2 separate regions of the Homo sapiens genome follow, and region 2 is linked to region 1. Evidence: fine-mapped expression QTL. Tissue or cell type: whole blood. Region 1 holds a variant in brackets; the other region holds the start of a gene. All regions are shown on one strand. Distances are between the middles of the regions.

What was found. PIP is the estimated chance that this variant, and not a neighbour inherited with it, causes the effect.
Region 2: ABCC5 starts here. The variant in region 1 is fine-mapped to the expression of ABCC5 in whole blood (INTERVAL, PIP above 0.99).

The regions. Positions count from the first base shown.
Region 1 is chr3:183,976,860-183,982,524 of GRCh38, reverse strand. ABCC5 (ATP binding cassette subfamily C member 5) reads left to right here. Exons shown (of 30, transcript NM_005688.4): 7 at 1-74; 8 at 651-798; 9 at 3,874-4,022; 10 at 4,901-5,008. Among named protein-coding and RNA genes, the nearest start is that of ABCC5-AS1, 27 kb to the left of the region's middle. The variant C/T (reference allele first, on the strand shown) is at 2,685.
Region 2 is chr3:184,015,432-184,020,756 of GRCh38, reverse strand. It overlaps ABCC5 (ATP binding cassette subfamily C member 5), which reads left to right and starts at 2,873. Exons shown (of 30, transcript NM_005688.4): 1 at 2,873-2,927. RefSeq lists an enhancer at 2,476-2,655 and a silencer at 3,136-3,305.

The sequences.
Region 1 (5,665 bases):
TTTATAATGTAATTATTCTGGGACCAACAGGCTTCCTGGGATCAGCTGTTTTTATCCTCTTTTACCCAGCAATGGTGAGTAAGCCTCCCAGCTGAATCCTGGCAGCTTCTCCTTAGGAGATGAGTTACTTCCATTGGGTTATAGTAGGCATTGCTGAGGTCTCACAGCTCTGATTGGAAATTTCCTCAAAGCAGGTTCAATCTAGAGCTCGATAGTGCTTGCTCTATAGGGACAGAATTTTGACTTGAGAGGAGGTAAGGTGTCACTTGCATGAAAGAGAGTCTGAATGAGAAGGTCAGCTGGTGAACCCTGTCCCACTTGACATAGGAGTGTTTGAGTCACTGCGTTGGAGTTGGTGCTAAGTGATAGGGCCCTCCTGCCTCCCCTTTGGAAGCACTCAGTCTCTGTGGTCACTATTGAGAATAAATACTTTCTTGTCTTCATTGCCTTATAAAGAGATAAGAATTCAGTAATGTTTTATTACAATTCAATAGGTCACTTTTATTAAAGACAGTACGATTACATAACATTTGGCCCATCCTAGCAAGCAGGATTATATGCTCATTTTATTGAGAATGACCTTAAGCAGATTAGGTAGTTCTCAAGTTTGAATGAGCTTTAATTTGGCGTGGCATCGCTTTTCCTTTCAGATGTTTGCATCACGGCTCACAGCATATTTCAGGAGAAAATGCGTGGCCGCCACGGATGAACGTGTCCAGAAGATGAATGAAGTTCTTACTTACATTAAATTTATCAAAATGTATGCCTGGGTCAAAGCATTTTCTCAGAGTGTTCAAAGTGAGTTTAAAGATTTTGTATGTGCATGTGGTAGAAGGACCTTGGATTCTTTGGGTCTTATAATTCACACACTTTGCTTTCTGAGCACATTACGTACTAGGACTAGTGTCTAGTATCGTAGGACATAATATCATAGAATCTTTGTGTTCAAAAGGGATCTTAGAGGTTTGAACCCATAACCTCATCTCACTGATGAGGAAATTGAGACCTGGGAAAATGTTGATTTTTCCCAGTTAAAACACAGCTAGTTAGGAATAATCCAGTTTCGAAGCCCCCTGTGTATATTCTCATCCTGCCCATGATTTTCCAGCCTGGTCATGAGGCTTTCACAGAAGACAATATCAAATTACTACTGAGAGCATCACCTTTGCCCACTCTACTCTGTGGTTTCACGGGAAATAGTTTGTGGCCCTTGAGGTAAACTGGGAGTCAGGATGGCTGGATGCTGGTCCTAGCTCTGTCAAACGTGTAAGTGCCCACAAAGCTAGGAGAAATGGCACAGATGGGGCATTCAGAAAGATCTCAACACAAATTGAACCAGTGTGCCTTGAAACAGGTGAAATTTAAGTAGTAGATAATTAAAAACAAACACATAGATACTTAATTTAAATAAAAGAGATGAGGCTGTTGGTGGACCATAACCTCATCAGGAGCTGAGTCCAGTGCTGTGAAACAGTCAATGCATTATAGTTGGAGTAGAAATACAGTGTTCAGGCCAGGCGCCAGTGGCTCACGCCTGTAATCCCAGCAGTTTGGGAGGCTGAGTTACGTGGATCACCTGAGTTCAGGAGTTCAAGACCAGCCTGGCCAATATAGTGAAACCCCGTCTGTACTAAAAATACAAAAATAAGCTGGGTGTGGTGGTGCATGCCTGTAATCCCAGCTATTCGTGAGGCAGAGACAGGAGAATCGCTTGAACCCAAGAGGCGGAGGTTGCAGTGAGCTGAGATCACACCATTACACTCCAGCCTGGGTGTCGCAGCGAGACTGTCTCAAAAAAAAAAAAAAAAAACAAAACAGTGTTCAGAGCAAGGCAGCTGTTGTTTTCCTTTCATTGAGTAACCTTCAGGAACATGATGTCCAATTCTGGAATCTACATTTGATTTATGAGGGCTGTTAAGCTAAGAAGCATCCAGAGGAGATGAGCACTCAAGAGGTGCCCAGCAGTGGACGGGGCTGCCTTGTTAAGCAGTGAGTTTGTTTCTACTAGAGTGGAACAAATGGATTCTGAATGGACATCTGCCAGCAGGTTGATGGCAGGATGGCTGCCACTGGTCCCTTCTGGCTCTCTGATTCTGTAGTTTTATGATCTTTTTTCTGAAATTTCCCTCATCCATCAGCCCCTGACTGGTTATCTTTACCTGTATGTATTAATTTGAAAAGAGTGTTCTTACTCATTATAGACATGGCCAAGGTGTATAATACATGTTCAAGTAAGGAGTTCAGTGTTTTTATGTGACTTACAAGCTAGCTGTGAAGATAGTTCCCAATGCCTTAGGCAGTGGTAATACCTTTAAGGTCAGTGTATACCCTCTTAGAAGAATTAAGTATTTGCCAGGTACAGTGGTACATGCCTGTAATCCCAGCACTTTGGGAGGCCTAGGCGAGTAGATCACCTAAGGTCAGGAGTTCAAGAGCAGCCTGGCCAAAATGGCAAAACCCCGTCTCTACTAAAAATACAAAAATTAGCTAGGCGTGGTGGCACAGCCTGTAATCCTAGCTACTCAAGAGGCCGAGGCAGGAGGATCACTTGAACCCAGGAGGCAGAGGTTGCAGTGAGCTGAGATCACACCACTGCACTCCAGCCTCGGCAACAGAGTGAGACTCCCGTCTTAAAAAAAAAAAAAGTATTGGCCGGGCGAGGTGGCTCATGCCTTTAGTCTCCA[C/T]GCTTTGGAAGGAGAGACAGGATCACTAGAGCCCAGGAGTTCAAGACCAGCCTGGACAACGTACTGAGACCTCCTCTCTACAAAAAATAAAACATAACTGGGCATGGTAGTGCACATCTGTGGTCCCAGCTACTTGGGAGGCTAAGATGGGAGGATCACTTGAGCCATGGAGGTTGAGGCTGCGGTGAGCCGTGATTGTGCCACTGCACTCCAGCCTGAGCAACAGAGCGAGACCTCGTCTGAAAAAAAAGTATCTTATTGTTCTGCTTCCTGCTCCACGGTCTTCAGTACACTATGGTTGCTTTGCTAATATGGGGGTTGATTTTGCAAATATTTAAGAAAAATCATTCTGCCTATAGAAATTGTATTTCACCTATCTTCTTCCGGTTGTCATTACTGCATTTTTATATGGAAGCTTCTATCCCACTGCCAACATACAGCAGGCACTCTGGGAAATGTTAGTTCCCTCCCCACTGCCCCTTTTTTTTTTTTTTTTGAGATAAGGCCTGGCTTTGTCACCCAGTCTGGAATACAGCGGTGCAATCTCGGTGCACTGCAACTTCCACCTCCCAGGTTCAGGCAATTCTCCGGCCTCAGCCTCCCAAGTAGCTGGGATCATAGGCGTGTACTACCACACCCGGCTAATTTTTGTATTTTTAGCAGGGACGGGGTTTTGCCGTGTTGGCCAGGCTGGTCTCGAACACCTGACCTCAGGTGATTCCCCCTGCTTTGGGCCTCCCAAAGTACTGGGATTATAGGCATGAGCCACCGCACCTGGCCTCTTAGTCCCTCCCTTTTTAATTCTCCAGTGCCATTGTGTTGTCTTTCCTATTAATTCCTTAGGCAAAAAGTCAACAACAACCAGGTAAGCAAACACAACTGCCAATTATAGATACAATTAATGTGTTCATTCCTTCTCAACCTAAGAAATTTACAAGAAGAATCAGAAAAAGGTATCATAGAAGATGATGATTGAGTTCATACATAGTGACTGCTTTCTGTTAGATTCATTCCTGTCACTTGATCCATTTCAAACCTCAGCCTTTTATACCAGCTTTAGTGGTAGAGTTGATAGTCATAGGTGTTGAAGGGTGGCTGGAGACCTACAGAGTCTTGTTTGGAGGTGGAGGAACAACATCCCTAGGCTTCTTTTAACTTGCTTTGAAATTGGCTTGCTTTTTATTCATAGAAATCCGCGAGGAGGAGCGTCGGATATTGGAAAAAGCTGGGTACTTCCAGAGCATCACTGTGGGTGTGGCTCCCATTGTGGTGGTGATTGCCAGCGTGGTGACCTTCTCTGTTCATATGACCCTGGGCTTCGATCTGACAGCAGCACAGGTCAGGGAACCCTCAGGGATGGGGAACATTTTAGAAATACCACATTTGCTGGAGGCTGAGGCAGGAAAATCACTTGAACCCAGGTGGTGGAGGTTACAGTGAGCCAAGATCATGCCATTGCACTCCAGCCTGGGGGACAGAGCAAGACTCCATCTCAAAACAAAACAAACAAACAAACAAAAAAAAAATACCACATATGGAGATGATGCTGTGGTCCTCTCCTTACTGGACCTGGAGGTTCCCCCAAGAATTAGTAGGTATTTTTTCATTCATGGGATTAAGCTGAGAAGCAGAAGAGTGGGGAGCCAGCCCTTATGCACAAATAGTGTATGAGTTGTTTTTAGTCAACATAAGTTTGAGTTTAATTCTGAAATTACAGATCATCCTGTGGTTCATATTTACTGACAATTTTAATTGAAGGTCTCAAAAACTCTACTTAAAAAAAAATGTGGCCAGGCATGGTGGCTCACGCCTGTAATCCCAGCACTTTGGGAGGCCGAGGCGGGCGGATCACTTGAGGTCAGAAGTTTGAGACCAGCCTGGCCAACATGGTGAAACCCTGTCTCTACTAAAAATACAAAAATTAGCTGGGCATAGTGGTGCATGCCTGTAATCCCAGCTACTCGGGAGGCTGAGGCAGGAGAATTGCTTGAACCTGGGAGGTGGAAGTTGCAGTGAGCCAAGATCGTGTCACTGCACTCCAGCCTGGGCGACAGAGCGAGACTCCGTCTCAAAAAAAAAAAAATGTAATTGACTTGTAATAACAGCTGACCGTGAAGTTGCAGCCTTCCTAGCGCCTGAGAGGAAATTCATGGTGTCAGGTTACTTCAGTTGCATAGCATCATTAGGCACAGTTTCTTCTCTTCTCCTATTTTCAGGCTTTCACAGTGGTGACAGTCTTCAATTCCATGACTTTTGCTTTGAAAGTAACACCGTTTTCAGTAAAGTCCCTCTCAGAAGCCTCAGTGGCTGTTGACAGATTTAAGGTAAGTGGCTCCTTCCCCTGCCCCCGTGTCAGGAGCCCTCCCCACACAACTAACTGCTGGCTCTGTTCAAGGGGCCACCCAGGCTGGCCTCACTGGGCTTAAGCTTGGCTTTGGCCTTTTGGCAAGTTGGTAAGAAAAAGGGGGCAGTGGAGGAGACTGAATTGAGGGATGAGACTTGTCACCTTTTTTAATTAATGTGAATTTTTACCTTTTGTGAACGGCCATGATCTGGGCTCCCAGGATTGCAGAGTTCCCCTTTAGAGCTAGCCCCTTCCACCTGGGCCTGACATGGATGTGTCGCAACTCACTGGGCCTTGAAGTGGCTTAAACCTAGAAGACCAGCACTGTGGGGCATCTTCCCCTTGATCTTTGCTACTGTCACTTTGATTGATTGACATGCTGAATCCTTTTTGATACTTTCTTTTTCCTGCCCTGTGGTGCTACTCACGATGCAGGGAAAGCAGTTACATGGAAATAGTCATAAAACTAGGTCATGTTGAGAAGTGCAGTTAAGTAAGTCTCAGCTTCTTTTCTTGCAGGTGGTTAGTTGATCATACCTTGGCTGTGTTCTTTGTTCCTTCAGAATACTACACATACATGATACAAAAGGGAGTATATTTGGGAGGGTGGAGAGAAATAGATATTTGATAGTGGTTA
Region 2 (5,325 bases), 38 kb before region 1:
TATTTAATGAATATGTTTAGTACATTACACAACATAAATATTATTTAGAAATACCCACAATTCTGGCCGGGCGCGGTAGCTCACTCCTGTAATCCCAGCACTTTGGGAGGCTGAGGTGGGCCGATCACTTGAGCTCAGGAGTTCGAGACCAGCCTGGACAATATGGTGAAACCCCGTCTTTACTAAAAATACAAAAATTAGCCAGGTGTGGTGGGACATGCCTGTGATCCCAGCTGCTCTGGAGGCTAAGGCAGGAGAATCAGAATCACTTGAACCCTGGAGGTGGAGGTTACAGTGAGCCGAGATCTAAAAAAAAGAAAAGAAAGAAAAGAAAAGACACACAATTCTACACTGCAACATAGATTCTCTAGCCCCCTTGCCTGAGGGTTGGGAAGTATCGCCCCTCTAAACAGTTCACAACACAAACACATTTTGAGGGGGTAATTTTGTAAGTATAATTCTTTCACTCAGACTATACTTGGACAGACCAAGACAGTACTACAGTGTATTGAAGCCTGCCACCAAGGCTGTCTGGTGTTCATCTATTCTTTTTTAATAAAAAACAAACTATAATCAACATATATGAAGTATTTCAGCGGGATTTAGAAGCTTTTTAAAAAATATGATGATATCAGATCTGCAGTTTTGGGTGTTACAGTGTTTGAGGCATTGTTGGAAGGTACTAGAATCTTTGGTGAGGTGGTATCTCATTACTATTTTAATTTACATTTCCAGGCCAGGCGTGTTGGCTCACGCCTGTAATCCCAGCACTTTGGGGGGCCTAGGTGGATGGATCACAAGGTCAGGAGCTCAAGACCAGCCTGGCCAATATGGTGAAACCCCATCTCTACGAAAAATACAAAAATCAGCTGGGTGCGGTGGCCGGTGTCTGTAGTCCCAGCTACTCCAGAGGCTGAGGCAGGAGAATTACTTGAACTCTGGAGGTGGAGGTTGCAGTGAGCTGAGGTGGCACCACTGCACTCCAACCTGAGGGACAGAGAAAGACTCTGTCTCAAAAAAAAAAAAAAAAAAATCAATTTCCCTGATTATGAATGAGATTGGGTGTCTTTTCATATTTGAGTGGCTGCTCAAGTTTCCTATTCTGTGAGCTGTCTGTTCATGTCATTTACCTATTTTCCTATTGGGTTATCTGCCGTTTCTTACTGAACTTAGAAATTATTTTGAATATTTATTATTCAAAAACTTTGTCAGTTATAACTTGTGGTTTATCTTTTCAATTTATGCCATCTTTTAATATGGCAAAAATTATCAATCTTTCTTCCTTTATTCTTTGTTTCTTGTTTAAAAAGTTCTTTCCTACTCCCAAGTTCATAAAGATATTTCCTATCTTCTTCTAAAAGTTTTTAAGTTTTCCCTTTCACATTTAAGCGTTTGATCTACCTGAAATGGGTTTTTTCTGTGTGGTATGAAGCGGTAATCCCTGATTGTTTTTTCATATGTATAACCAATTGTTCCAGTACTATTTACTGACTCTTCTTGCTTTCCCCACGGATTCGTAAGGTTTTCTGTCACAGATCAAGTTACATGGATGCACCAGTCTGTTTGGGGGCTCTTTATTCTATTGCATTGGTCTATCAATCCGTGCGCAAGAATATGCTGCTTTACGATACAGTAGTGTCTTCACACTAGCTAACTAGCTAGCTGTTATAAAGATGGACAAGTCACTTTACCTTCTCCTTCTTCCTCTTCCTCTTCTTCTTCTTCTTTTTTAATCTTTGAATTAAAAAAAAATACGGCGGGGTGAGGTGGCTCGCGCCTGTAATCCCAGCACTTTGGGAAGCCGAGGCGGGCGGATTACCTGAGGTCGGGAGTTCGAGACCAGCCTGGCCAATATGGCGAAACCCTGTCTCTACTTAAAAAATACGAAAATTAGCCGGGCGTGGTGGCGGACGCCTGTAATCCCAGCTACTCGGGAGGCTGAGGCAAGGAGAACTGCTTGAACCCGGAAGGCGGACGCTGCAGTGAGCCGAGATCGCGCCATTGCACTCCAGCCTGGGCAACAGAGCCAGACTCCTTAAAAAAAAAAAAAAACTCATAATACCTACTCATAGGGCTGTAATGGAGATTAAAGGAAACAAGAATGGTATGTAAAGCATCGGATACAAGGTAGGGAAGAACTCAACAGTGGCTTTTATTTAATGATGCTGAAGGTACCGATGAAACAGAGAAATAAAGGGATCAATCTTTCTGGGAGCTTCAGTTTCATTTATAAAAAGAAGAAGATGAGTTAGCATAACATTTCTAAGGCTCTTGCCACTTCTAAGACTGTGATCCTGGCATTTTATTATCTAGAGACCAGGCAGCGAGACATTGATGGGCAGTTGGTGTTAAAGTGAGAAAGGCGGTATCTGCGCAGACTGCAGGGTCGAACCATGAGCAAGCAATCGTATCTGCCACAACAGATAAGAACTGGGGCTGGCCGGCCTGACGACTCTCAACGGGTTAGACGCGGGCTACGATGACCTTCACGATCTTTTCTGGCAGCTACACGGCCACGCAGGGTGGGACTGCTCTGCCTACGAACAGCACTGTGTGCGAACACAGGGCCACGGTTAAGCCTCCCGGCTGCCTCCCCCAGGGAACACGACCCCTGAGAAGATTCCAGACAGTCTCGCAGAGGCACGGGGAAGGATGGAACAGAGCCGGGAGCTCGGTGGGAAGAGGGGCAGCCCGCACCGCCCCCGGGATGTCACCGGCGCTTCTGGGAAATGTAGTCCTTCGCCGCGTCCGCAGCCCTGGGCACTCGGAAGGAGGACTACAGTTCCCTTCAGCCTTGGGAATGCTTTGTGCAGCGCGCTTGCGCGGTGTGGCGGCCGATGCCGCTATAAAGGCTTGTTTTGCTGCAGGGCTCATGCTCGGGAGCGTGGTTGAGCGGCTGGCGCGGTTGTCCTGGAGCAGGGGCGCAGGTAGGTGATGGCTGCTGCCGCACCCCTGCCCTCCAGCTCGGTTGTCACGGGGATCACCCCTTTGCATTTCCTCGGGGCGTGGCGGGATGTGGCCAGGGCTGCGAGCAGTTCGGGGGACACTGGAGACTTGGGGAACGGCGTATGGCCTCCCCCTGGTCTCCTGCCGCCGCCTCCTAGGCCTGTGAGCCCGGGGTCTGGTGACGGGGTCGTGTGCTGGAAGACAGGCAGGTAGGATCGGGATGAGCGGGCAGGGACGCGGGCTACGTCCCTGGCCGCGGCCGCCAGGGGGCGCTGCGCCCGCGGGCCGTGGGTGTGGGTCGCGCTCGCCTGGGCAGGCCGGAGCGGGCTGTGGGAACGCCCTAGGGCCCGGGCATCCCAGGCGAAGCGGGTCTGAGAGAAACGCCCACCTGGGAGGCTGTGCAGCGGGTGGCTCGGGGCACCCTGCTCAACCCGCAGCGGAGCCGCCAGCGACCTTCGAAGTAAGTCATCCCCTTCGTTTTTGCAAGCGGGTAAATGGAGGTACGTGACATAAGCACGCGCAGCAAAGCCGTGGCTGTGCCGGGAACGCAGCCCAGATCTCTCCACGGTCATCCAGTGCTCTTTTCGCTTCTGCCACACAGAGCCGCGGGTGGCTTTGTGTTTATCACACAGGGGCCATTTGGTTTCTGCACAGACGGAGAGGCTGGAGGCAGGTGGGCACAGGAACGACGGGGAAAGTTTCAGGAGGTCTTGGAGGAGGAGATGGCTAGGTTTTACTGTGGTCCGCAGCGTGTATGAAAGGTGAGGCTGCTTGGAGACGCAACAAGTGGATTACAGTGGGTGTGGTAAATACGTATCCCTTTAGCGTGGTGTCTTCCTCGTGCAGCTTGAGGGCCTGGAGGTGATGGAAACCTACTCATGAGTGTTGGGATGACTGCAGCTTGCACACACCAGTCTGGTAATCCCGTGCAACTCTCCTCCTGCCATGCAGTTGAATCAGTATCATTGTGCAGGGAGAGTGTCTACACTTTTATCAGTGGAAAGAGAATCTTGGTAAAAAAGGGCAGCTGACTAAGTGGCCTCAACCCTATTGGGCACTTCTTTGGGGTTCTCCCACGTTGATTATTCTGCTTCTACCCTTGTACATGTCTGGACAACAGGTTTGTTTTTTACAAACAAAAATCCCTTCTCTTTCTTCCTCTCTTGATAGCTGAGGCAAGTGAGCATTTAAAAAAGATATTCCAACAACTTTAAAGGAGGACACGAGAAGATAGGGAAATATAAATAGTATCAGTAAAATGGCTGGCCTGGGGATCCATCCTTGCTTGCTTGCTTGCTTCAGACTGGGGCTTTGTTTCTTTCCAAACCTGTCAGGATTCCCAGCTCTTCGCCGGCCTCCACGTGGGGTGCCCTCTTTTATGTTCCAGATACACAGACGATGGTGTCCTTATGTTCAAGGCCACAGACAGTAACTTTGTGCCTACTTTGGGCCTGCCTGCTCTCCTGATTGTGCCTCTTTTTCCAGGAAAGTAGAGATGAGTGTGTTAGAGATAATGGAACACTGTTCCCCACACCCTTCATACATAGAATAACTTAGTCCCTTAGGATAGTTTAGCAGTGTCTACCACAGCAGTCACTGTAGGCACAAAACAGTCATTATTTGTGTCATAACAGGGAAGTCGTTTTGTCCCTGCCTCTCTCTGCTCCTGTGCTCCACTGATTCTACTTCATCCTTTGAAATAAAAGTGGTTGAAAGAATCTTTGGTTATCATGGGTGCTTAGATAATTAAGATTATGTTCGTGTTCTTCTTGATGTGGCATTTCATATTGTGGATGAGTTCCAGTGACCTCCTCTGTTTCAAACTGCTCACCGCCCCAACCCCCACCTTTTAAAAAGGTAGTACTAATCTTTTCCTCTTCCAGATAATCAGCTAAGCTAGGGAACCCTTGAAGGGGAAGGTTAGAATTTCGTGATTCCCGTAAGAAGGTTACTCTGATCTACAGCTACAGCTCAACACTGGGGACACTGGCAGATGCCAGGTCTGTTTATAGTTTAGCCTTAATGAGGTCTCAATGACGTGATTGCTGCACTCTGGCTTGGTGAGCCGCTGTTCTTTATGGTGTAGTTTGTCATTGGACAAGGTGACTTTTTTTTTTTTTTTAAAGATAAGTAACAGCTATATCAACTTAGGGTACTTGAACCAGAATTCTGAAAGGCAAGAAATCAAGCTTTCTTTGGACTGGAAACCTGTCTTTGCATAGGAGATTTAGTCCTTTTTATTCAGAGGATTAGTAAGTGTTCTCTTTTTATCTGACACTTTAAAAATTGCATTATAATGGTTAGAATTTTGTGCTGCAGAAGTAGTAGTTTTAAGTCACAGCGATAGCCAGGGATTTATGGAATCCAGAAGGCGACACG